Regions from separate parts of the Homo sapiens genome. Here regions 2 and 3 are each linked to region 1. The links come from fine-mapping of genetic effects on gene expression. A gene starts in region 1. Each other region holds a variant in brackets. All regions are shown on one strand. Distances are between the middles of the regions. Region 1 holds the start of NPRL3 (NPR3 like, GATOR1 complex subunit). Region 2 holds the start of HBQ1 (hemoglobin subunit theta 1). Region 3 overlaps NPRL3 (NPR3 like, GATOR1 complex subunit).

What was found.
Region 2: its variant is fine-mapped to the expression of NPRL3 in aorta (GTEx, PIP 0.95).
Region 3: its variant is fine-mapped to the expression of NPRL3 in whole blood (TOPMed, PIP above 0.99).

What each region holds. Positions count from the first base shown.
Region 1 is chr16:135,520-143,691 of GRCh38, forward strand. It overlaps NPRL3 (NPR3 like, GATOR1 complex subunit), which reads right to left and starts at 3,154. Exons shown (of 14, transcript NM_001077350.3): 1 at 3,123-3,154; 2 at 2,631-2,815. The coding sequence starts at 2,748. RefSeq lists a silencer at 2,584-2,813, an enhancer at 3,034-3,083 and a cis regulatory region at 7,436-7,954.
Region 2 is chr16:180,334-188,495 of GRCh38, forward strand. It overlaps HBQ1 (hemoglobin subunit theta 1), which reads left to right and starts at 126. Exons shown (of 3, transcript NM_005331.5): 1 at 126-248; 2 at 333-537; 3 at 647-846. The coding sequence starts at 154. The coding sequence ends at 775. RefSeq lists an enhancer at 627-886 and a silencer at 897-1,246. The variant C/T (reference allele first, on the strand shown) is at 5,158.
Region 3 is chr16:99,683-107,854 of GRCh38, forward strand. NPRL3 (NPR3 like, GATOR1 complex subunit) reads right to left here. Exons shown (of 14, transcript NM_001077350.3): 8 at 690-827. Among named protein-coding and RNA genes, the nearest start is that of MPG, 26 kb to the left of the region's middle. RefSeq lists an enhancer at 7,074-8,172. The variant C/T (reference allele first, on the strand shown) is at 3,242.

The DNA of each region.
Region 1 (8,172 bases):
AATCGCTTGAACCCGGGAAGCAGAGGTTGCAGTGAGCCAAGATCAGGCCATTGCACTCCAGCCTGGGCAACAGAGTGAGACTCTGTCTCAAAAAAAAAAAAAAAAAAAAAAGACATAAACAGTCTGGAGGAAAATAAGGGAGTTTTTTATTGTTGTTGTTAATAATTTTGGAGAGCAAAACGCCTTTCCATTTAAAACAAAACTCAGAAACCACAAGAGATTAGACTGAAAACTCCACAAAAATCAAAACTCTGGCAAGAACTACACAGAAGCAAACAGGGTGACTATAGCTTTGTCCCAAGACCTATTTTTACATTAAATATATAAAGAACTCCTTCAAATCTATAAGGAAAAAAAATCAAACAACCCAAGAGAACATTAGGCAAAGGTTATAAATAAGTCATTCACTGAAAAGGAAATCCAAATGGCTCCAAAAACAGGAAAATATGCTTTCTATCTCAATTAAAAGGCAAATAAACATTAAAATTACTACCAGATATAATTTTTCACCTACCAGATTAACAAAGATTGAAAAATCTAACCTATTAAAAATAAATATGCTCTTTATCCCTTAGACCCAACCATGCTACTTTGGGGATTTAATATTACAAGAATTCTGCAAAATGACAATACCTGGAAAGAACGTTTGAACTTTTCGTATTAGCAAAAGATTGAAAACAATTTTGCGTCCATCAACCAAAAGGACACGATAAACAAATCACAATATGTTCATCTCATGGAATTCACCGTGGCCGGTAAGAAGGACAAGGGTGCTCGACAGGTTCTGATCTACATCAAAGATGCAGACATGAAGTGAAAACGAAAACAGGGGCAGAACAGTGTGTATGGTGTGACTTTGCTTGTGCTTAGAAAAAAAACACAAGTGCAGGCTGGGCGCGGTGGCTCACGCCTGTAATCCCAGCACTTTGGGAGGCCAAGGCGGGCGGATCACAAGGTCAGGAGTTGGAGACCAGCCTGGCCAACATGGTGAAACCCCATCTCTACTAAAAATAAAAAAAAAAATTAGCTGGGCATGGTGGCGCATGCCTGTAGTCCCAGCTACTCGGGAGGCTGAGGCAGGAGAATTGCTTGACAGGGGGTCGGAGGTTGCGGTGAGCCGAGATCACGCCACTGCACTCCAGCCTGGCAAGACTGCAAGACTCGTCTCAAAAAAAAAAAAAAAGAAAAAAGAAATACATACGCCTGTATTGACACAGAAGGTCCTGGAAAGACACAGAAAAATGGGAACAGTAGTTACCCCTATGATGGAAACTGAGGGCTGGGGGCCAATAGTAGGAAAGAACTTTCTTTTCATAATCTAAACTCCTTTGTATCTTTAAAACTTTCTGCCATATCAACAAGTTTAAAAATAATTTTAAAACAAAATACAAAATAAAAACTGAACAGTCCGGGTGCGGTGGCTCACACCTGTAATCCCAGTACTTTGGGAGGCCGAGGCAGGTAGATCATTTGAGGCCAGGAGTTCGAGATCAGCCTGGCCAACATGGCAAAACCCCATCTCTACTAAAAAAAAAAAAAAAAAAAAAAAAAATTGCAGGGTGTGGTGCACATGCCCTGTAGCCCCAGCTACTTGGGAGGCTGAGGCAGGAGAATCCCTTGAGCCCGGGAGGTGGAGGCTGCAGTGAGCCGAGATCACGCCACTCAACTCCAGCCTGGGCGACAGAGTGAGACTCCGTCTCAAAAAATAAATAAAATAAAAACAAAAACTGAACATTCATGATGATGAAAAATCAAAAGTAACCTACATGCCGTCCACAGGGGAAGGCAGCAGCCTGCAGCCAAGGGTGAGGTTGATCCCTGCTTGCAAAGGCAGACGGAGCTCCAAGGCCGACTATGGGAAAAGGGCGCCACAGAACAATTCGTGCGATGAAAAACCTCACGCGACGTTCCCTTTTCCTGTGGATAGATCTGCATCTATGCACAGGGCAGACAACTCCCAACACGGCCAGGGGTGATCCCTGTGCTTGCTAGAACTGGGGGTGGCAAAGACAACTTCAGATGTTCACGTAACTTTTTTTTTTTTTTTTGAGACGGAGTCTTGCTCTGTTGCCCAGGCTGGAATCCAGTGGCGCGATCTCGGTTCACTGAAACCTCCGCCTCCCGGGTTCAAGCAATTCTCCTGCCTCAGCCTCCCAAGTAGCTAGGATTATGGGCACGCACCACCACGCTCGGCTAATTTGTTTTTTTTTATTTTTATTTTTTCAGTAGAGACAGAGTTTCAACCATGTTGGCCAGGCTGGTCTCGAACTCCTGACCTCAGGTGATCCACCCGCCTCGGCCTCCCAAAGTGCTGGGATTACCGCCACCGGCCTTGTTCGTGTAATTTTGTATTTTCTCATGATGAATACATCCCAAACTCATTTTATTTTATTTTACTTTATTTTTTAAAGGCTGGAGACTGATGAAATGTCAGCAGTAGTTGCTTTGGTGTGGTGAACAATGCATGATTTTAATTTTTTTTTTCCTTTTTCTACTTTTCAAATACTCTACAACGAGCAGATCTCGAATGCCCAGCAAAAGCTAAGCTCCGCGAGGCGGCCCTGGAATGAGGCGACCCCGGAATGAGGCGGCCCCCGCGAGCGCCAGGCCCCCGCCCAGCGCTCACTTACTTGTCTGGGACGCCGGGTGCTCCTGGCTTCTCTGGAAGGGGTACCTGAACAGCAGCTTATTGCCCCTGCTCCCCGAGCTCACCAGAATCACGCTGATGGGGCTGGTGTTGTCCCGCATCCCGCCGTGGGGCCGGGGCCGGGGGCGGAGGGGGCCAGAGGAGGACGGAGCCGGAGGCGGAGGGGGCCTGAGGAGGACGGAGCCGGAGGCGGAGGGGGCCTGAGGAGGACGAGGCGGGGACGCAGGGGGCCTGAGGAGGGCAGGGGTGGAGGCGGAGGGGGCCTGAGGAGGGCAGGGGTGGAGGCGGAGGGGGCCTGAGGAGGGCAGGGGTGGAGGCGGAGGGGGCCTGAGGAGGGCAGGGGTGGAGGCGGAGGGGGCCTGAGTAGGGCAGGGGTGGAGGCGGAGGGGGCCTGAGGAGGGCAGGGGTGGAGGCGGAGGGGGCCTGAGGAGGACAGGGGTGGTGGTGGACGCGGAGCAGCGCCACAGTTACCAACCCACGTGCCACGCTCCGGGCTCGCGAGACTTCGGCGACACCGTCCGGAGGAGGTGCTAAGGCGGCGGCCGGGAGAACGGCGCAGGCGCAGGCGCAGGCGCAGGCAGCGGAATGCGCAGGCGCGGGGCCTTCTGGAAGCCACCGAGTTCCGCGGTGCTGTCTGGAGCCGTACGGTTCGCGTTTGGGGCACAGGGGCCCCTCTTGCTGGTGCGGATGGGAAAGGCGCGGGGTCGAGTCAGCGTCCCTCTCGATGTTGGTTTCTTCGTTTTACAAATAACACTTGGGCGGGGCGCGGTGGCTCACGCCTGTAATCCCAGCATTTTGGGAGGCCGAGGCGGGCGGATCACGAGGTCAGGAGATCGAGACCATCCTAGCTAACATAGTGAAACCCCATCTCTACTAAAAATTAGAAGAAATTATCCGGGCGTGGTGGCAGGCGCCCGTAATCCTAGAGGAGAATCGCTTGAACCCGGGAGGCGGAGGTTGCATTGAGCCAAGATCACGCCATTGCACTCCACCCTGGGCGACAGAGCGACGAGACCCCGTATCAAAAAAAAAAAAAAGAAAGAAAGAAAGAAAAAAGAAAAAAAAAAGGCCGGGCGCGGTGGCTCACGCCTGTAATCCCAGCACTTTGGGAGGCCGAGGCGGGTGAATCACGAGGTCAGGAGTTCGAGACCATCCTGGCCAACATGGTGAAACCCCGTCTCTACAAAAAAAAAAAAAAAAATTAGCCGGGCGTGGTGGCGGGCGCCTGTAATCCCAGCTACTCGGGAGGCTGAGACAGGAAAATCGCTTGAACCCGGGAGGCGGAGCTTGCGGTGAGCCGAGATTGCGCCACTGCACTACAGCCTAGGCGACAGAGCGAGACTCCGTCTCAAAAAAAAAAAAAAAAAAAAAAAACACTTGGAAGCCGACAGGAGATCTTTGAGACCTTGGGCGAGGCAGTGACACTAAAGGCAGGAGCGACTACAGAAGAATAAATTAAACTTCATCAGATTAAAAACTTTACTGCGGCCGGGCGCGGTGGCTCACGCCTGAAATCCCAGCACTTTGGGAGGCCGAGGTGGGCAGATCATGAGATCAGGAGATCTAGACCATCCTGGCCAACATGGTAAAACCCCGTCTCTCTACTAAAAATACAAAAATTAGCTGGGTTTGGCGGCGCCTGCTTCTAATCCCAGCTACTCGGGAGGCTGAGGCAGGAGAATCGCTTGAAGCCGGGAGGCGGAGGTTGCAGTGAGCCGAGATCGTGCCACTGAACTCTGGCCTGGCGACAGAGCGAGACTCCATCTCAAAACAAAACAAAAACTTCGGTGCTTTAAAGGACACCATCAAGAAAATTAAAAGTCCACCCACAGAACGGGAGAAAATATTTGTAAGTTACATATCTGATAAGGGAATTGTATCTAGAATGGAGGAAACTTACAACTCAACAATAAAAAGACAATTGAAAAATGCACAAAGGATATGAATATTTTTCCAGTGCATTATGCAAATGGCCAATAAGCACCAGAAGATGCTCAGCTCAACTGGTAGAGGCTTACGCCTGTGACCCCAGCGCTGAGAGGCCAGGAACTCCAGACCAGCCTGGGCAAAACAGAAATTAAAAATGCTCAACATTATTAGGCATTAGGGAGATGCAAATCAAAACTACAAATAGATGCCACATCACACCTCCTACGATGGCTGTAATCAAAAAGACAAGCGTCAGCAGGGGTGTGGAGAAACGGGAATCTCTCTCCTGCTGGTGGGAATGTAAGAGGCTACACTCGCTATGGAAAACAGGCTGGCAGTTCCTGAAAGGTTAGAGTTAACACAACACTCGGCAAATCCCCCTTTTAGATATATAGCCAAGAGAAATGAAAGCATATGTCCACACAAAAACATGTGTGTTCTTAGTAATATTATTCATAATAGCCCAAAGTGGAAGCAATCCTAGGGTATATCAATTGATGAATGGGTGAATATGGTATAGTTTGTTTAAGGGAATACTATTCAGCCATAAAAAGGAATGAAGTACGGCACATGAATCCATCTTGAAGACACACTAATATATGATTCCATTTATATAAGATGCCCAGAATAGGCAAATCCATAGAGACAGAATGATTAGTGGCTGCCTAGGGCTTCCAGGGGGTCAGGGGAAATATGGAGCGATTCATGGGTTTTTTGAAGGGGAGTGATGAAAATGTTCTAACGTTGACTGTGGTAATGGTTGGACAGCTCTGAGAACGCGAATACACTAAAAGACATGGAAGTGCCGGGCGCAGTGGCTCATGCCTGTAATCCCAGCGCTTTGGGAGGCCAAGGCAGGCGGATCGCGAGGTCAGGAGATCGAGACCATCCTGGCTAAGACAGTGAAACCCCGTGTCTACTAAAAATACAAAAAATTAGCTGGACATGGTGCGGGCGCCTGTAGTCCCAGATACTCAGGAGGCTGAGGCAGGAGAATGGTGTGAACCCGGGAGGCGGAGCTTGCAGTGAGCCAAGATCGCACCATTGCACTCCAGCCTGGGCGACAGAGCGAGACTCCATCTCAAAAACAAAAAAAAGATATGGAAGTGTACACTTGAAGTGGATAAGCTTTATGGTATGCAAATTGGTATGGTATGGTAAATTATATCTCAATGAAGTTGTTTTTTAAAAAATCACCCCACCTACCCTATCCCAGGCTTCCCCAGGAGGTAACTAAAGGTAATGAGCTTCTTTGGCTGCTTCCAGAACTTTCCCAAGCACATCAAATGCATCAGAACCTAACCACTTGACTGAGGGATGAGCATTTTCACTGTTGCAAGTAACCCTCTTGCACCAACACTGACACTAATGTGTATTTTGCAGAACAAATTTGTGGATTGGCCTCACCAGGGTGAAGGGTACGTGCATTTGAAATGGCTCAACAGTACCAACAGGTGCGTTTTCTTGCACAGGGCTGCATAACATTTTTTTTTTTTTTTTGAGACAGAGTCTCGCTCTATCACCCAGGCTGGAGGGCAGTGGCACAATCTCAGTTCACTGCAAGCTCCACCTACCAGGTTCACATCATTCTCCTGCCTCAGCCTCCCAAGTAGCTGGGACTACAGGTGCCCGCCACCACACCAGGCTAATTTTTTTTTTTTTTTTGAGATGGAGTCTTGCTCTGTCGCCCAGGCTGGAGTGCAGTGGCACGATCTCAGCTCACTGCAAGCTCCACCTCCCAGGTTCACACCATTCTCCTGCCTCAGCCTCCCCAGTAGCTGAGACTACAGGCGCCCGCCACCACGTCCGGCTAATTTTTTTGTATTTTTAGTAGAGACGGGGTTTCACCGCGTTAGCCAGGATGGTCTCGATCTCCTGACCTCTTGATCCACCCGCCTCGGCCTCTCAAAGTGCTGGGATTACAGGCGTGAGCCACCGTGCCCGGCCTGCATAACATTTTTTTTTTTCCTGAAATTCCCAGAAAGGAAAATGGTGTCTTGTTCTATGTTGCATTTCTTTGATTGAGAGGGAGAGCTGCATCACTTAATTATTTGCAGAGAATTGCTTTTCTTGTTTTCTTTACAGGTGGTCTGTTCTTGGATGGTCTGGCTGTGTTCTTTCTGAGGAATACATAACCTCTGCTACACATTTTGCAAGGCTTTATCCCCGTTGTCCATGTTTTGATTTTATGTATAATCAAAAGGTTTGTGAGTTCTCCCGCACTTCCCAGGAGTGCCTCTGGGATGGAAATGAGACTGCAGGAGCAGGGCTTGAGGCTGGAGGGGTGAGATGGGACAGATGGGGGTGGGGGAACCCAGGGCAGTGGCCGGTGGTGGTAATGGAGGCCTCCTCACAGGGACCCTCACAGCGACCATGCGAATGGAGCAGGACTGTGACTCAGGTCTCGCTCTTCTGACCTAATCGTGCTGCTGCCCCAATGGGCAGAACCTTGGGGCTCCAGACTGGACATCTCTGGGCTCAAAGGATCCCACTGTTCCCCCGGTTACCCTCTCAGGGTTGGCCTCCTGCCAGTAACCCTGGCACTCATTGTTCATTCTTCTGACTATCGTCAGTCATAATGAGAGCTCGAACTGGTGAAAGTGCAGGGAGCTCACCATGACCCCAGCCCACAGAGGTCCTGGGTGCGTCCCTGCCCTCGAAGCAGCACTCTGGATCCCAGCGCCACCCTCATGTCCATGTTTGCACCTCATTGGCTGTGACAGAAATGAGACATCATTGTCACACGCTGGCCTGAGGGTCAGTGGGCCTTGCTTTGGACCTCAGTTTCCCCACCAGTAACAGGGTTCAGAGCAGATGGTCCCTGAGTGAGTCCCAGCTCTAAGTTCTCCCAGGGTCTCCTGGACAATGAAGCACCAGGGCCAACCTCCATTTGCTACAGGGGACATCCTCAGGCTCTTCTCTGCTAAGACCCCACACCTCCAAGTCTCCTCATTTTACCTTTAAATAGCTGTTTCATGACCTGCTTTTTTGACGGTAAGTAGATTTTTGGAAACTGAAACCCCTGACCCTTCCTCCCAGCCTGGGCCTGCCCTTGGCAGGATAGGAGGCCTTATCGGTCCTGCCACTTGGTCTGGGCCTCAAAGGGCCACCGCCATCTGCAGGAGGGCCGGGTGGGGTTCACAGACGCTATCTGGGACTTGCCTGGACACCTCCACCTTCTCAGCTGAGTGTTGCTGCCCCACCAGGGAGAACCACTCACACACAGTAGTAATAGAAATAATTTAAAATTCATGCTGCAAGTTCCTGAGCGCCCTCCCAACACTGAGGTGGGGGCTAGTCTAATCCCCATCCTAGAGGTGAAAACAGTGAAACTAGGACTCACAAGGCAAATTAGCCTGTTCAGGGTCACCGAGGGTCCACTCTCATGGGAGAGTTTGCAGATGCCCAATCCGGCATTCTGCTGAGTGTCCAGTGGCTTGTAAGTGGCCAGACACCCTTTGAGCTCAGCCTCAGCTGCTCAGGCACAGAACGTGCCTGGAGCTTGGAATTCAGGCCAGAAACCACCAGTGGACACCAGCATTCCACACTCACTGCACAGGCTGGGGCTCAAACCAAGGCCCAGGGACAGGAAGGGA
Region 2 (8,162 bases), 45 kb after region 1:
AGATTGAGCGCGCGCGGTCCCGGGATCTCCGACGAGGCCCTGGACCCCCGGGCGGCGAAGCTGCGGCGCGGCGCCCCCTGGAGGCCGCGGGACCCCTGGCCGGTCCGCGCAGGCGCAGCGGGGTCGCAGGGCGCGGCGGGTTCCAGCGCGGGGATGGCGCTGTCCGCGGAGGACCGGGCGCTGGTGCGCGCCCTGTGGAAGAAGCTGGGCAGCAACGTCGGCGTCTACACGACAGAGGCCCTGGAAAGGTGCGGCAGGCTGGGCGCCCCCGCCCCCAGGGGCCCTCCCTCCCCAAGCCCCCCGGACGCGCCTCACCCACGTTCCTCTCGCAGGACCTTCCTGGCTTTCCCCGCCACGAAGACCTACTTCTCCCACCTGGACCTGAGCCCCGGCTCCTCACAAGTCAGAGCCCACGGCCAGAAGGTGGCGGACGCGCTGAGCCTCGCCGTGGAGCGCCTGGACGACCTACCCCACGCGCTGTCCGCGCTGAGCCACCTGCACGCGTGCCAGCTGCGAGTGGACCCGGCCAGCTTCCAGGTGAGCGGCTGCCGTGCTGGGCCCCTGTCCCCGGGAGGGCCCCGGCGGGGTGGGTGCGGGGGGCGTGCGGGGCGGGTGCAGGCGAGTGAGCCTTGAGCGCTCGCCGCAGCTCCTGGGCCACTGCCTGCTGGTAACCCTCGCCCGGCACTACCCCGGAGACTTCAGCCCCGCGCTGCAGGCGTCGCTGGACAAGTTCCTGAGCCACGTTATCTCGGCGCTGGTTTCCGAGTACCGCTGAACTGTGGGTGGGTGGCCGCGGGATCCCCAGGCGACCTTCCCCGTGTTTGAGTAAAGCCTCTCCCAGGAGCAGCCTTCTTGCCGTGCTCTCTCGAGGTCAGGACGCGAGAGGAAGGCGCCGCCCCTCCCCAAGGAAAGGCGAGGGCCTGGGGCACACCCCCAGTGCCCAGATCCAGGCGCGCCTCTTTCCACCTCCAGCAGGTTTGGGGCCTCGGCCATGGGGGCACCGAACTGCGTGCAGCCTGACCCTCCCGAATGGGGTGGTAGGTGAGGGCCGCGGGACGCCCCGGGCGGCGGGCTGCGAGGACGGCCGACTCTGCCCATCCCGAGGGCGGCTGGCTTCGCCCTCCCCACTCTGCGCCGAGCACGCGGCCCGGACCCACCGCGAGAACTCCGCACCTGCAGCGTGAACGCACGCGGGCGGCGTTAAGGGCCCGGGGCTGACTCGGAGCAGGTTAGGGAACAGCGCCCCCTCCCGGCGCGAGCCGGTACCTGCGCAGCACCCAGCCGCCGCGGCTGTGGCCTGGAATCGGGGACCTGGGGTGCCGGGGGGTTGTGGTGAAGGAGGTGGGACCAGCCCCAGCACCTAGCCACGTAGCTGGCGAGGTGGACCAGGAACCGACCCAGACCCCTGCCGTCACCCGACATCACTACGGAGAGTGAAGCTTTTTTATATTTGTCCACATAAAACCAATCATGGTCATTGTAGAACTTCCGAAAACAAGGCTTGCTGCACCTTCCTGTGTATCCCAGGTCCAGGAATGGGTGCAGCACATCCTTCAGCTGCCGCTTGACACGCGGCAAACTGTGTCATGTGTAAACAAGAACAGGACATGGCTGTCATATCCAAGAGCACATGTGTAACACAGACATGCCACACACACACACACACACACACGGGGTAGAGGCAGGCCTCATCCACACCCCTAACATTTGATGCGTAGCTGTTCCAGTCTTCTAGGCACATGTAGAGATGCTTTTCCTCAGAAATGGTATTCTCAAGGTGACACTGAGGAAAAGTGGACAGGCCGGGCGCGGTGGCTCACGCCTGTAATCCCAGCACTCCGGGAGGCCGAGGCGGGCGGATCACGAGGTCAGGAGATCGAGACCATCCTGGCTAACACTGTGAAACCCCGTCTCTACTAAAAATACAAAAAAATAGCTGGGGGTGGTGGCGGGCGCCTGCATTCCCAGCTACTCGGGAGGCTGCGGCAGGAGAATGGCGTGAACCCCGGAGGCGGAGCCTGCAGTGAGCCAAGATTGCGCCACTGCACTCCAGCCTGGGCGACAGAGTGAGACTCCGTCTCAGAAAAAATAAAAATAAAAATAAAAATTAGCTGGGTGTGGTGCGGGCGCCTGTAATCCCAACTTCAGGAGGCTGAGGCAGGAGGATGGCTTGAACCCGGGAGGCGGAGGTTGCGGTGAGCCGAGATCACACCATTGCACTCCAGCCTGAGCGACAGAGCGAGACTCCGTCTCAAAAAAAAAAAAAAGAGGAGGGGGCGGGGGGAAGAGCCAGAGAAAATATTTGCTACATGTGGCAGATAAAGGTTATTATCTCTACTACATTAGATCTCCGGGCGGGGCATGGTGGCTCACGCCTGTAATCCCAGCACTTTGGGAAGCAGAGGCCGGTAGATCACCTGAGGTCAGGAGTTTAAGACCAGCCTGGCCAACATGGTGAAACCCCGTTTCTACTAAAAATATAAAAACTAACTGGGTGTGGTGGTGCATGCCTGTACTCCCAGCTACTCGGGAGGCTGAGACAGGAGAATCACTTGAACCAGAGTCGGAGGTTGGAGTGAGCTGAGATTGCACCACTGCACTCCAGCTTTGCGACAGAGCGAGACTGTCTCAAACAAAAAAAAAAAAAAAGAAAAGAAAAAATCTGGCCCCTAGCCCACCCGTGAGCCCCCTCTTGGATCCACGTTCTAGTTTCTATCCTTGGGGTAGCTCGAGTCAGTCTCACCTCAATCATCCTGTGTGCTCCCAGAGCACAGGACCTGCGGCTGCTGCAACTTCGCGCACAGGAGCAAGCACTTGGAGCCCAGGAGGCTCAGGGGCCCTGAGGAAGCACCAGGCTCTCAGACTCCTGTAACTAGGTGTGGACACCCTCCTGGGATTACATCTGGAGCATCACTGAAGGTGGAAGAGCCAGACCGCATCCTCCCTGGAGATGTGGAGGTTGGAGGGAGCTGGCCCTGGCTCAAGGGCTCAGCCCACTTGGTACAGAACCTACCCAGAGGTGCAGATCCAAGGGAGCAGGGGGAGCAGCTGTGGGCCCTCCACACTGTTGGGGAGACTCATGCCCACTCAAGTCCAGGGGAATTTGCACTCTGCCTTTTTTTTTTTTTTTTTTTTTTGAGATGGAGTCTTGCTCTGTCACCCAGGCTGGAGTGCAGTGGTGCAATCTCAACTCGCTGCAATCTCCACCTCCCGGGTTCAAGCGAATCTCCTGCCTCAGCCTCCTGAGTAGCTGGGATTACAGGTGCCTGCCACGCCTGGCTCATTTTTATATTTTTAGTAGAGACGGGGTTTCACCATGTTGGCCAGGATGGTCTCAATTTCTTAACCTTGTGATCCACCTGCCTTGGCCTCCCAAAGTGCTGGGATTGCAGATGTAAGCCACCGCGCCTGGCCATACTCTGCCTTTTCAAAGCCACTCCTACACAGGTGGTGGTGAAGGCTGCACAACAATGTAGATACACGTCGTGCCACTGAACTGTACACTGAAAAACTGTTATAACGGCACGTTTTGTGTGCACTTTACTATAATAAAAAATGTTCCATCCTGGCTGGGCGCGGTGGCTCACGCCTATAATCCCAGCACTTTGGGAGGCCGAGGCGGGCAAATCATAAGGTCACGAGATTGAGACCATCCTGGCTAACACAGTGCAACCCCGTCTCTACTAAAAAAAACACACAAAAAATTGGCCGGGCGTGATAGCGGGCGCCTGTAGTCCCAGCTATTCGGGAGGCTGAGGCAGGAGAATGGCGTGAACCAGGGAGGCGGAGCTTGCAGTGAGCCGAGTTTGCGCCACTGCATTCTAGCCTGGGTGACAAAAGCGAGACTCCGTCTCAAAAAAAAAAAAAAAAAAGTTCCATCCTGGCCAACGTGGTTCTGGCTCCAGGCTGCCACCCCTCCCCCAAAGGATGCCACCCCAGATAGGGGTCCTCGGCCTGCTCCAGCACCTGCCTGTCCCATGACGGCTGCACACTGGGGTAGGAAACGGCCTCCGCATCCTCCTCTCCTCCCCCCAGGACTACCCTTAACCCACTCAGGGCTTCGGTCAAGGCCCATGCGCTCCCCAAGCCCAAGGTAACCCTGTGCAGGAGGCAAAGGTGGTACAAGGCACAGCCCATCCAGCTAGTTTGGCGCCGACAGCACCCACCAAACAGAGCCATTTACCTTTAAAAAAATCACTGCCAGCTGTGGTGACACACCTGTAATCCTAGTGCTTTGAGAGGCTGAGGTGGGAAGACTGCTTGAGCCCAGGAGTTCCCAAGAATATCCTGAGCAACATAGTGAGACCTGTCTCCACAAAAACATAAAAAATTAGCCAAGTGTGGTAGTGCACACCTATGTCCCAGTTACTTGGAGGCTGGGGCAGGAGGATCACTTAAGTCCAGGAGTTCAAGGCTGCAGTAAGCCATGACTACAACACTGCACTCCAGCATGGGTGACAAAGCAAGCATCGTCTCAAAAAAAATAAATAAATAATTTTGGCCAGGTGCCGTGGCTTACGCCTGTGATCCCAGCACTTTGGGAGGTCAAGGCGGGTGGATCACGAGGTCAGGAGTCCAAGACCAGCCTGGCCAAGATGGTGAAACGTTGTCTCTACTAAAAATACAACAATTAGCCGGGCATGGTGGCGGGCCCCTGTATTCCCAGCTAGTCGGGAGGCTGAGGCAGAGGGTGCAGTGAGCCGAGACTGCATCACCGCGCTCTAGCCTAGGAGACAGAGCGAGACTCCGTCTCAAAAAAAAAAAAAAAAAGTTTTTTTTTAATCGCCAAATGTTCTGGAGAGGCCCCCTTCTCTTCTGTTCTCCTGCAGTCTGGGCTGCAGGCCAAGGTGGTCCCTGTGGGTGGAGACAAGGGCCGGTTCCACCTGACACTACAGACCCCTTCACATGGGAGGGATACACTTCCAGACCCATATATCTCCGAGTAGCCATCTTTGGCGAGATTTACTGGTACTGCAGTGGAAAGGAAGGACTCGCTGTACTGGGTGAAAAAAGTGAAAACATGGGACTCCTATCGCAGACTCTGACAGCAGAACCTGGTGTGGGTTATTTGGGAGGAGGGAGGGAGGAGGGAGAAAGGAAGAGCTGTTGTGGGTGCTATCAGCGAAACTGCACCGGGGGCATGAAGCTCAGTTTGGT[C/T]AGCACCACCTGGCAGGTGTACCAAAAGCCCACCCGACTGTCCCTGCACGGTAGAGAGGCAGGAGCGCCTCTCCCTGCACGGATGGTGCCCCGGAGGCTACCAGGGGCGGCCGAGGACACTGATGCTGCATCCCAGGAGGACCTGTCCTTCAGCTGTAATCAGCAGACACGGGGGACAGGATGGCCAGGGGCACAGCACCTTTTCTGTAAACCCCACACCCTGACCCCCCCCACCCAAAAAAGCAAAAAACAACTATTTGTCTACACATACAATTTTATGCCCAGATGGAAAAAGATCCAAATGATTCACAGTGGTGATGGCTCTGAGGGTGACGCTGTCTGCTTAAGGCCCAGGGAAACCCAGGTGCAAACTCACACTCATCACCCAGGCAGCCACAGCCATGAACACAACGTGGGCTTGGGAACAGGGAGCCCAGACCCAACCACTCCCTCCTAGAAGACGAAGAGGAAAGCACATGTGCTGAACAAGTACCCTGAGTCCCACCTGCAGGAAAAGGTGCAGGTAAGGAATACGGACACGGGAGGAATACGGACACGGAGGGAACAGCGACACGGGGGGAACAGCGACACGGGGGGAACAGCGACACGGGGGGAACAGCGACACGGGGGGAACAGCGACACGGGGGGAACAGCGACACGGGGGGAACAGCGACACGGGGGGAACAGCGACACGGGGGGAACAGCGACACGGGGGGAACAGCGACACGGGGGGAACAGCGACACGGGGGGAACAGCGACACGGGGGGAACAGCGACACGGGGGGAACAGCGACACGGGGGGAACAGCGACACGGGGGGAACAGCGACACGGGGGGAACAGCGACACGGGGGGAACAGCGACACGGGGGGAACAGCGACACGGGGGGAACAGCGACACGGGGGGAACAGCGACACGGGGGGAACAGCGACACGGGGGGAACAGCGACACGGGGGGAACAGCGACACGGGGGGAACAGCGACACGGGGGGAACAGCGACACGGGGGGAACAGCGACACGGGGGGAACAGCGACACGGGGGGAACAGCGACACGGGGGGAACAGCGACACGGGGGGAACAGCGACACGGGGGGAACAGCGACACGGGGGGAACAGCGACACGGGGGGAACAGCGACACGGGGGGAACAGCGACACGGGGGGAACAGCGACACGGGGGGAACAGCGACACGGGGGGAACAGCGACACGGGGGGAACAGCGACACGGGGGGAACAGCGACACGGGGGGAACAGCGACACGGGGGGAACAGCGACACGGGGGGAACAGCGACACGGGGGGAACAGCGACACGGGGGGAACAGCGACACGGGGGGAACAGCGACACGGGGGGAACAGCGACACGGGGGGAACAGCGACACGGGGGGAACAGCGACACGGGGGGAACAGCGACACGGGGGGAACAGCGACACGGGGGGAACAGCGACACGGGGGGAACAGCGACACGGGGGGAACAGCGACACGGGGGGAACAGCGACACGGGGGGAACAGCGACACGGGGGGAACAGCGACACGGGGGGAACAGCGACACGGGGGGAACAGCGACACGGGGGGAACAGCGACACGGGGGGAACAGCGACACGGGGGGAACAGCGACACGGGGGGAACAGCGACACGGGGGGAACAGCGACACGGGGGGAACAGCGACACGGGGGGAACAGCGACACGGGGGGAACAGCGACACGGGGGGAACAGCGACACGGGGGGAACAGCGACACGGGGGGAACAGCGACACGGGGGGAATACCAACACGGGAGGAACAGCAACACGCAGGGAATATCGACATGGGTGATGCCTGCAAAGCACAGCATCAATCCCAAGTGACTCCTGTACAGGGCGGCCCCTTCCACCCTCCTTTCCTTGGAGACAGTTGGCTGGGCTAGACCTGTGTCACGGGCTGGCAGAGCAGCCCACCTACCCATCTGTCCTCCTGGAGGGGACAGCCTGTGGCAGGAGAGCCCAGAGCAAGGCCACCAGCTACACTGTGATACCGGTGGCAGAAAGACCCAGACCACAGCGCCCGTGTGCGCCCACTGAGCCAGCCAGCTCAAGGGTGGCATGTGTACCCCTGCAGAAACAGAGCGGATGAGGATGGCTATGTGTTAACAATGTGAACCTCAGGAATTCCCTCCAAAAAATCTCCCACGAAGTGAAAAAGGGAAGGAGCTCCCATCATCTACACATTAGTTAGCAGTTATCCTTTTCAGAAGGGCTTCATTTTGGGTTTTTGGGGGGTTTTTTGAGACAGAGTCTTGCTGTCGTCCAGGCTGGATGCAATCTCGGTTCACTGCAACCTCTGGCTCCCGGGTTCAAACGATTCTCCTGTCTCAGCCTCCCAAGTAGCTGTGATTACAGGTGTCCGCCACCACACCCAGCTAATTTTTGTATATTGGTAGAGACAGGGTTTCACCATGTTGGCCAGGCTGGTCTCGAACTCCTGACCTCAGGTTATCTGCCTCCCAAAGTGCTGGGATTACAAGCGTGAGCCACCGCGTCCCCCTTTACTTTGGTCTTAAAGTACCTGCCTGATGTACAGCAGGTATGTTAGAAAGAACTGAAAGGTGTTGGCCAGGAGCGGTGGCTCACGCCTGTAATCCTAGCACTTTGGGAGGCCGAGGCGGGCAGATCCCGAGGTCAGGAGATCGAGACCATCCTGGCTAACAAGGTGAAACCCCGTTTCTACTAAAAATACAAAAAATTAGCCAGGCAAGGTGGCAGGCACCTGTAGTCCCAGCTACTCTGGAGGCTGAGGCAGGAGAATGGCGTGAACCTGGGAGGCGGAAGTTGCGGTGAGCTGAGATCACGCCACTGCACTCCAGCCTGGGCGACAGAGTGAGATTCCGTCTCAAAAAAAAAAAAAAAAGAACGAACTGAGAGGTGGGAAACATAATCAGCCCACATGGGACATGAGTCAAACCATTTTTTTTTTTTTTTTTTTTTTTTTTTTTTTTGAGATAGGGCTTTCTTGTCACCCAGGCTGGAGTGCAGTGGCG
Region 3 (8,172 bases), 36 kb before region 1:
GAGGCTGAGATGAGCGATGAGTGGATCACCTGAGGTCAGGAGTTCGAGACCAGTCTGGCCAACATGGTGAAACCCTGTCTCTACTAAAAGTACCAAAAAAATTAGCCAGGCATGGCAGTGGGCGCCTGTAATCCCAACTACTCGGGAGCCTGAGGCAGGAGAATCACTTGAACTTGGGAGGTGGACGTAGTGGTGAGCCGGGATCGCACTACTGAAATCCAGCCTGGGCGATAAGATCAAAACTCTGTCTCTCTCTCACACACACACACACCCCCGCAAAAAAAAAAAAAAAAAAGAAAAAGAAAAAAAAAAGAAAAAGAAAATAACTGAGATCCCATGAGTGCTGACTGAAATGCAAAAGACTGGGGTAGGGCAACACCATTAAGATGAAGTCCCTCCAGCCCTCCGGCCTCCCCAAGGACACTCAGCCCCACATCCAGGCTGCCCTGCCCAAGCCTAAGGTGGTGCCAGAAGGGCCCAGGAGAAACCTGGGATTGGTCATTTCTGGACACAACTGGATACAAAATTATGTGTTTTAACTTCTATAAACGGCAGAGCCCCACCTGCAAGCTTCCGCAGTGGGAAGAAGAAAAAGAGAAATTTTGGAACAAAGTAAGTGGTAAAATCTCAGGCAGAAGCTAAAGGGAAGGGCCCTGGCAGGGAGTGAGCACGTGGGGCTGGGCACTTACCGGATGGCTTTCAGGCTCCGTTCGATGGCCTCTGGGGGGATCAGACTGGAGGCCGCATAGTGGATCTTGTGGGGCAGGCAGAAGCTCACCTCCAGCCAGCTGTTGATGTGAAGCCGAACTACGCCCGACGTGCACAGGCTGCAGAGAGTGGGCGCTGTTACCCGTTCACATAAACTTTCTAACCATGCACACAGATCAGAAAACACCCTGCTCAATGGTGCTGATTCCCCTGCTGCTTAGGGGAAACTGCAGGTGGAGACCCGGGCAGGAGAGCATCTCTTAAGATCACATTATGTTTAAGAAAAGAAAATATGGGGGCCGGGCACGGTGGCTCATGCCTGTAATCCCAGCACTTTGGGAGGCCAAGGTGGGCGGATCACGAGGTCAGCAGTTCGAGACCAGCCTGGCTAATAACACGGTGAAACCCCGTCTCTACTAAAAATACAAAAATTAGCCAGGTGTGGTGGCGGGCGCCTGTAGTCCCAGCTACTCGGGAGGCTGAGGCAGGAGAATCACTTGAACCCAGGAGGTGGAGGTTGCAGTGAGCTAACATCACGCCACTGCACTCCAGCCTGGGCAACAAGGCAAGACTCTGTCTCAAAAAAAAAAAAAAAAAAAAGGAAGAAGAAGAAGAAAGAAAAAGAGAAACATATTTCTGGCTAGCCCTGGAATCTGTAGTCCAACCAGACTGCCAGGGCTTGAGAGAAGCCGTACCCTGTCCTGGGGACTCAGTGCACTAGAGGCACTCTAACTCAGGCCCCTGCCCGTCCAGACCCCTGGCAGACACCCAACACCCAGAGTACATCCTCCCTGTGAATGGGCCTGCCCTGCACACCTCATGAAGACCCGTCACAGGTGCACGTCCAGGCAGAACAGTGGCTGTCTCAGAGGGCGAGGAGGGCAGGGAAGGAATGCCAAGTCCCCCAGAGTGTTCCAGTGGTGAGAAGCACACAGTGCCCACCTCCCTGCAGTCTGCAGATGCCCACAGCACCTCAGTTGCAGTGCATGTGGATACCAAGTGGTCACCACAAGCCAGCCGTGCTAGCCAGCCCCAACACTTCACTACGACGGAAAACCTTTCACTCCACATTCTATCAGTAAGGGTAACTTGGTTCTTTCGGGTCCCAAAGCTTGCTCAGGCCAAACATAGCAACACCATCCCAGTTTCCTTATTTCTTTCACAGTCCACTTTAAACCATCAGCAAATCCCATCTGCTCCACCTGCAGGGATGTCCAAAATCCAGGCCTTTTCAGCATCACCAGGCCCAAGCCACCCAGAGCACTGGCCCCTCTGACTACCGCTCCCCACACTCCCACCTGGGCAGTCCCAGCCATGGGCCTGCAACACCCACGTTCCTGTGGCCTCACTCCCTGTGCCCAGTCACTCAGGTCCCGCTGTGCTCAGGGCCCTGGCATTTGCCCTTGCCCACAAACTCTCTGCAGACGCCCCAAGGCTCCTTTACTCCATCGGTCTCCACTCAAGTGTCACATTCTCAGTGAAGCACCCCTGACCCCAGCCCCATTGACACTCCAACCCCTGACCCGCTGCCTAATGCTGTCTCCCCAACCAGAACTCACTCCTGAGGAGGGGGGCTTGTGGGTTTCATTCTCTGCTCTCTACACATTGTAAAACGTGTCAGGCACATAGGCACGGAGCTGCATTTCCTGAATGAAGCCAAGGAACACACCGCCCTCCCTGCATGCACTGTCTTTCCTAGGAAGCCCTGCCCCAAGAACAGGCTCCACAGTGGGGATGCAGCCCACGTCATCCCCTCGGGGAACCACACAAAACAAGGAAGGAGTTGTTTTCACCAGGAGCTTCTAAAACTCCCTGATGGAGAAGCCAGGGCGCCACCCAACTCCACCGCTCACCACAAAGCGCCCTTGCCTTAAGTAAGAGCCAACAGCACTTGTTCTATGACACAGAGGAGATGCAACTGCTCAAGCAAAGCTGTCTGCAGCTGGCCTTCACCGCATCCCCGGAGGCTCCAGGCAACAGGGGGGATCTCCACCTACTCTTGTCAAGGCCTGGCTACTCAAAGTGGCCGGCACCTTCCTTGTGTCCTGCACAGGGAACGCAGCCTGTGAAGCCTCACAATGACACCAGTTCTAAAATAGGAGCAAAACACACACAAGTTCTTCTCCAAACTGCCCATTTCTACAGCACCTCCCCGCATCATGTTTCCTCTGTTCACTGCCCCACTGCCCAGGAGAGCAGCCAACTAGTGCTTTTCCCATCACCCCCTGACCCTATTCTGCTATTCTCAGCTCCCAGTTGGCGGGACAGGCCAACACACCCACATCCGGCTAAGTCCGGGAGACTTGGCCAGACTTCTGGCTGCCCCAGGCCAGAAGGTACAAACGGCCCCTCGGACGTCTCTTAGGACACGTCAATACGGGGTGCTCAGAGAACACCATGGCCCCAAGGTCCCAGAGGAGGGCAGCAGTCTCAGCTTCTTCCAGAACTGCATGCTAACCAAGTATGTCGGGGCAGACAGAGGCTCCCAGAACCTTACCTCTCTTTGGTCAGGGTCTTTGCAGGGTGAAAAACT[C/T]GTATCAAACCCTGAGAAATGTCCCAGCCGCTAAGGAATTAAAGATCACACCAGGAGAGATTTGTCCAGGGGATCCAGGTTACTCAACTTGAGTAAGCAATAGTTAGGATCTTGGCATCCGTATGCGACAGGGAAGAAAGGGCAAGCGAGAGGTGGCCCCATGCACTGTGCTGTCACCATCTGGGTCAGAAAGGAGGGCCACTGGAAATAAAAGGTCTATTTTTTTTTTCTTTTTTCTGAGACAAGGTCTCACTGTTGCTCAGGCTGGAGTGCAGTGGCGCCATCTCCGCTCACTGCAGCCTTGATCTCCCAGGCTCAAGACAACCTCCCAAGTAACTGGGACTACAGACGTGCAACATCACGCCTGGGGTGATTTTTTTTTTTTTTTTTTTTTTTTTTTTTGTAGAGACAGGGTCTATGTTGCCTAGGCTGGTCTCAAACTCCTGGGCTCAAGCGATCCTCCCACCTTGGCTTTTCAAAGTGCTAGGATTACAGGCGTGAGCCACCGCACCCACCCAAGGCCTTTCTGTTTCTGTCCTATTTAGGATGCAGCTCAAAGTGGCTGTTGGGACACCACAGAATCAGAATACGGAGGCTCCTATTGTTTCAAATGTAGCTGTCTTTGCTCCATCTAGGAGCACAGTGAGGCCTTATGACATGTGCTGTGGCTCCCAGCACCAGTTTAGGTACTTGGAGTGCAGCAGGGAAGAAAATAACTTGGCTGCTCTGCACGCTGGGGGCTTCACTCAGCGGCATCTAGACAGACACATAATTGGCCGGGCGTGGCGGCTCACGCCTGTAATCCCAAAACCTGGGAGGCCGAGGCAGGCCGATCACTTGAGGTCAGGAGTTCGAGACCAGCCTGGCCAACATGGTGAAACCCTGTCTCTACTAAAAATACAAATATTAGGCCGGGTGCCGTGGCTCACACCTGTAATCCCAGCACTTTGGGAGGCTGAGATGGGCAGATCACCTGAGGTCAGAAGTTTGAGACCAGACTGACCAACAGGGAGAAACCCCGTCTCTATTAAAAGTACAAAATTAGCTGGGCGTGGTGGTGCATGCCTGTAATCCCAGCTACTTGGAAGGCTGAGGCAGGAAAATCACTTGAACCTGGGAGGTAGAGGCGGAGGCGGAGGTTGCACTGAGCTGAGATCGTGCCATTGCACTCCAGCCTGGGCAACAAAAGTGAAACTCCATCTCAAAAAAAAAAAAAAAAATTAGCCAGGTGTGGTGGCAGGTGCCTGTAATCCCAGCTACTTGGTAGGCTGAGGCAGGAGAATCACTTGAACCCAGGAGGCGGAGGTTGCAGTGAGCCGAGATCGCGCCATTGCACTCCAGCCTGGGTGACAGAGCAAGACCCTGTCTCAAAAAAAATTGAAATTAACGTTTAAAAAAAAAGACACCTAATTGTAATCAAATTGTATGGAGCATTAGAAACTGGAGAGAGTTATAGGGAAAGGAACAGGGGCTTGGAACACACCTCATGGAAAGCCAGGAACAAGTTCCAGCTATGGGTATGGAGAAATGAGGGCAGGAGGGTCACATGAAGGTTCTTCTAGTGACTTCCCAGCTTGGTCATCTCTGCTGCCCTCACCGTGTCAGCTGTCCTTGGAGCCGCAGTCATGTGGTCTGGTTTGTACACTGGCATGGGGCCCTCTCCTCTGGCAGAGACACGCCATGTTGGTTCCTCTAACTTCCACGTGGACTTTACTCCATTTTCCCAAGCATCAGCTCACCCACCTGCTGCTTTCTCCCTCAGAGCACTCTGCACTGAGGCTGGTGCTTCTTTATGAACTAACCCAGCTCCCTAGAGCGGTGACAAGTGCTGCCACCAGGAGTGCCCCAAAGGCCATGGCAGACCTGGGCAAATTCCCTGAACATGTCAGAGGGATGACTGCTCTGGAAAGGTGCCGGCCCAACCTCCAGCCTGTAAATCCCCCACAGTAAGAGGGTAAGCCAGGAGCTGCACTGAGGTCTGTTAACAAGGGGAAAGAGAAAGGTTTGTCACTGTTTTTAAGTCTGCAGCTTTAAGACAAGAGCCCTTAGCACAAGCAGGGTTTGGGCCCTGAAAGGTTTCCTGCCGAGCTTGCACTTCTATTTGCAAGGTGTTTAATGGTTTGGTCTGAAAACACTCTGGAGGAAAACACTGTCCTCCTCAAGACTTATCCAGCCCCTCACACAGCTCTGGGCCAGCCAAGAGGGCCCAGCCCAGTCTGTGACAGGAGATAGGTGCCCCAGCCAAAGCCCTGCATCCTGACAATGACTATGCAAAAGGGAATGGCTGGCTTCAAACACACTCTCGCCGTTCATCTCCAAGACAGAAATGTGCACAAGCTTAGTCTAGTCCCCTCAGCTTTTAGCATCTGAGAAAGCATCCATTCCTAACCTTAGAACTAGACAGGACCTGTGAAGCTATCCTGCAAACCTCTGCATCCTCTGGTCCCACGGATGGGCCTGGCTTCCTACCATAAGTAGTGGGATGCTGCATAACCCAAAAGATCTATGTGGGTTCCAAACAGCCTACCTTGAAATTTCAAACGAAAGTTTATATATAGGTGCATTTTTATGGAAATGGGTACTACAACTCAGGATATTCACAGAGGGTCCATGGGACCAACCCTGCTCTCGACAGTTTGCAGTGCAAGGCTCCGCACCAAGTACCACCTACCCAGCCAGACCCTGGACATCACTCCCCACCACAGGTCCTGTTAACTCGGAGAACCATTCAGCAAATCACTTCTTCACACTCCATGGAATCTACACTGCTGTTATTCCCACCCACACATTCCGTCGACCCCTAGCGGATGAGCTGTGCTCCTCCACAGGCTGAGTGTAGGGGCTGTGTTGCAGAAAGTGAAGAGACATCCCTGCCCTCCTGGGAGACACAATTCAATGGTCATATGAATGAGTGACATGCTGTCACTGAGGGCCACTGGGATCCACAGGGAGACACAAGTGCTAGGTATGGCACAAGTGTTGGGGTGGCCTCCTGAGCGATTCACATTCCCAGCCTATATTCACAGATGTTAGGTCCTGCAGGACAGGGCCACCAGGCTATTCAGCCACACCATAACCCTAGCTTTAATTAAAATAGCAACTGGGGACCGGACGTGGTGGCTCACGCCTGTAGTCCTAGCACTTTGGGAGGTCGAGGTTGGCAGATCACGAGGTCAGGAGTTCAAGACCAGGCTGGCCAACATGGTGAAACTCCATCTCTACTAAAAATACAAAAATTAGCCAGGCCTGGTGGCAGGCGCCGTAATCCCAGCTGCTCAGGAGGCTGAGGCAGGAGAATCACTTAAGCCCGGGAGACGGAGGTTGCAGTGAACTGAGATTGTGCCATTGCACTCCAGCCTGGGTGACGAAGCAAGACTCCGTCTCAAACAAACAAATAAATAAATAAATAAATAAAATAGCAACTGGGGGCAGGGCATGGTGGCTCACGCCTATAATCCCAGCACTTTGGGAGGCTAAGGTGGGTAGATTGCTTGAGTCCAGGAATTCAAGATCAGCCAGGGTAACATGGCAAAATCCCATTTCCACAAAAAAATACAAAAACTATTCAGGCGTGGGGGCGGGTGCCTATAGTCCCAGCTACTCGGGAGGCCGAGATGGAAGGATCACCTGAGCCTGGGAGACAGATGTTGCAGTGAGCCAAGATTGCGCTCCAGCCTGGCAATAGAGTGAGACCCTGCCTTAAATTAAAAAAAAAAAAAAAAAAAAAAAAAAAAAGAACCAGGAACAATTCCTTTGAAAAATCCCACCCCAATCTCCAACCTCATTAATCTCACAGCTTCTGGTCTTTCAGTTCTGTTCTGAGATTCCCCCAGATCTGGCAGTCAGTCACCATCAGGAGAAAGGCGCTCTGTCCTAGGTCACCTGATCAGTAATGGAAACTCAGTCTCCTCCTCTCAGTGCAGAAGAGTGAGCAGCAGCAGACCAGACCCTTGAGGCCAACCATGGACCTGATGGGATGAGGACAGACGAGAGGCCACAGCCCAGAGGGGCTCCTGGGTGGCTGCAGAGCCATGCCAGTGCCAGACAAGGATGGGTACAGGGAGGGTACTACTGCCTGGACTCCTGCCAGAGAAACATAGCTGCCAGCATCCCTGGGGCAAGCTCCAGGACCCAAGACTGTTAGGGTGGGAGTTTGGATGGAGGAAATGTGATCCTGGGCACTAACAAACAGAATGCGTAGGTCAGGAAAGAATGCTACATGCTGAACAACAGCTTAGGAGCCTTTTTCAGCAAAACTCAGATTCCTGTCCTCCTTTAATATCCACTAGGTGGCGCTGGGTTGCCTCAAGTTCTGAGCTCCTCCGCAGCCTGCAGATCACACAACAGGCAGTCCAAGGTTTTGTCTCCTTTCAACTTTCCAGCACGATTCAAACCTAAGAAATCATAGTCCATTCTTCCTTTAGAAATATAAAGTCAACGAGCCGGGCACGGTGCTCACGCCTGTCATCCCAGCATTTTGGGAGGCCGAGCCGGGCGGATCTACAAGGTCAGGAGTTCGAGACCAGCCTGGCCAATATGGTGAAACCCCATCTCTACTAAAAATACAAAAATTAGCCAGGCATGGTGATGTGCACCTGTAGTCCCAGCTACTCGGGAGGCTGAGGCAGAAGAATGCACTCCAGCCTGGGCAACAGAAGGATATTCCATCTCAAAAAAAAAAAAAAAAAAGAAGAAGAAAAAGAAATATAAAGTCAATGGTTTGGTTTTTATTTAAACAAATTTTTAAGAGACAGGGTCTCACCATGTTGCTGGGGCTGGAGTACAGTGGCTACTCAGACACCAGCATAGAGCACTACAAGCTCGAACTCCTGGGCTCAAGTGATCCCCCAACCTTGGCCTCGCCTGTGAGATGGGACTACAGGAGCACACCACCGCACCAGCTTGGTTTTTATTTTAATTCCAAGTTAGCC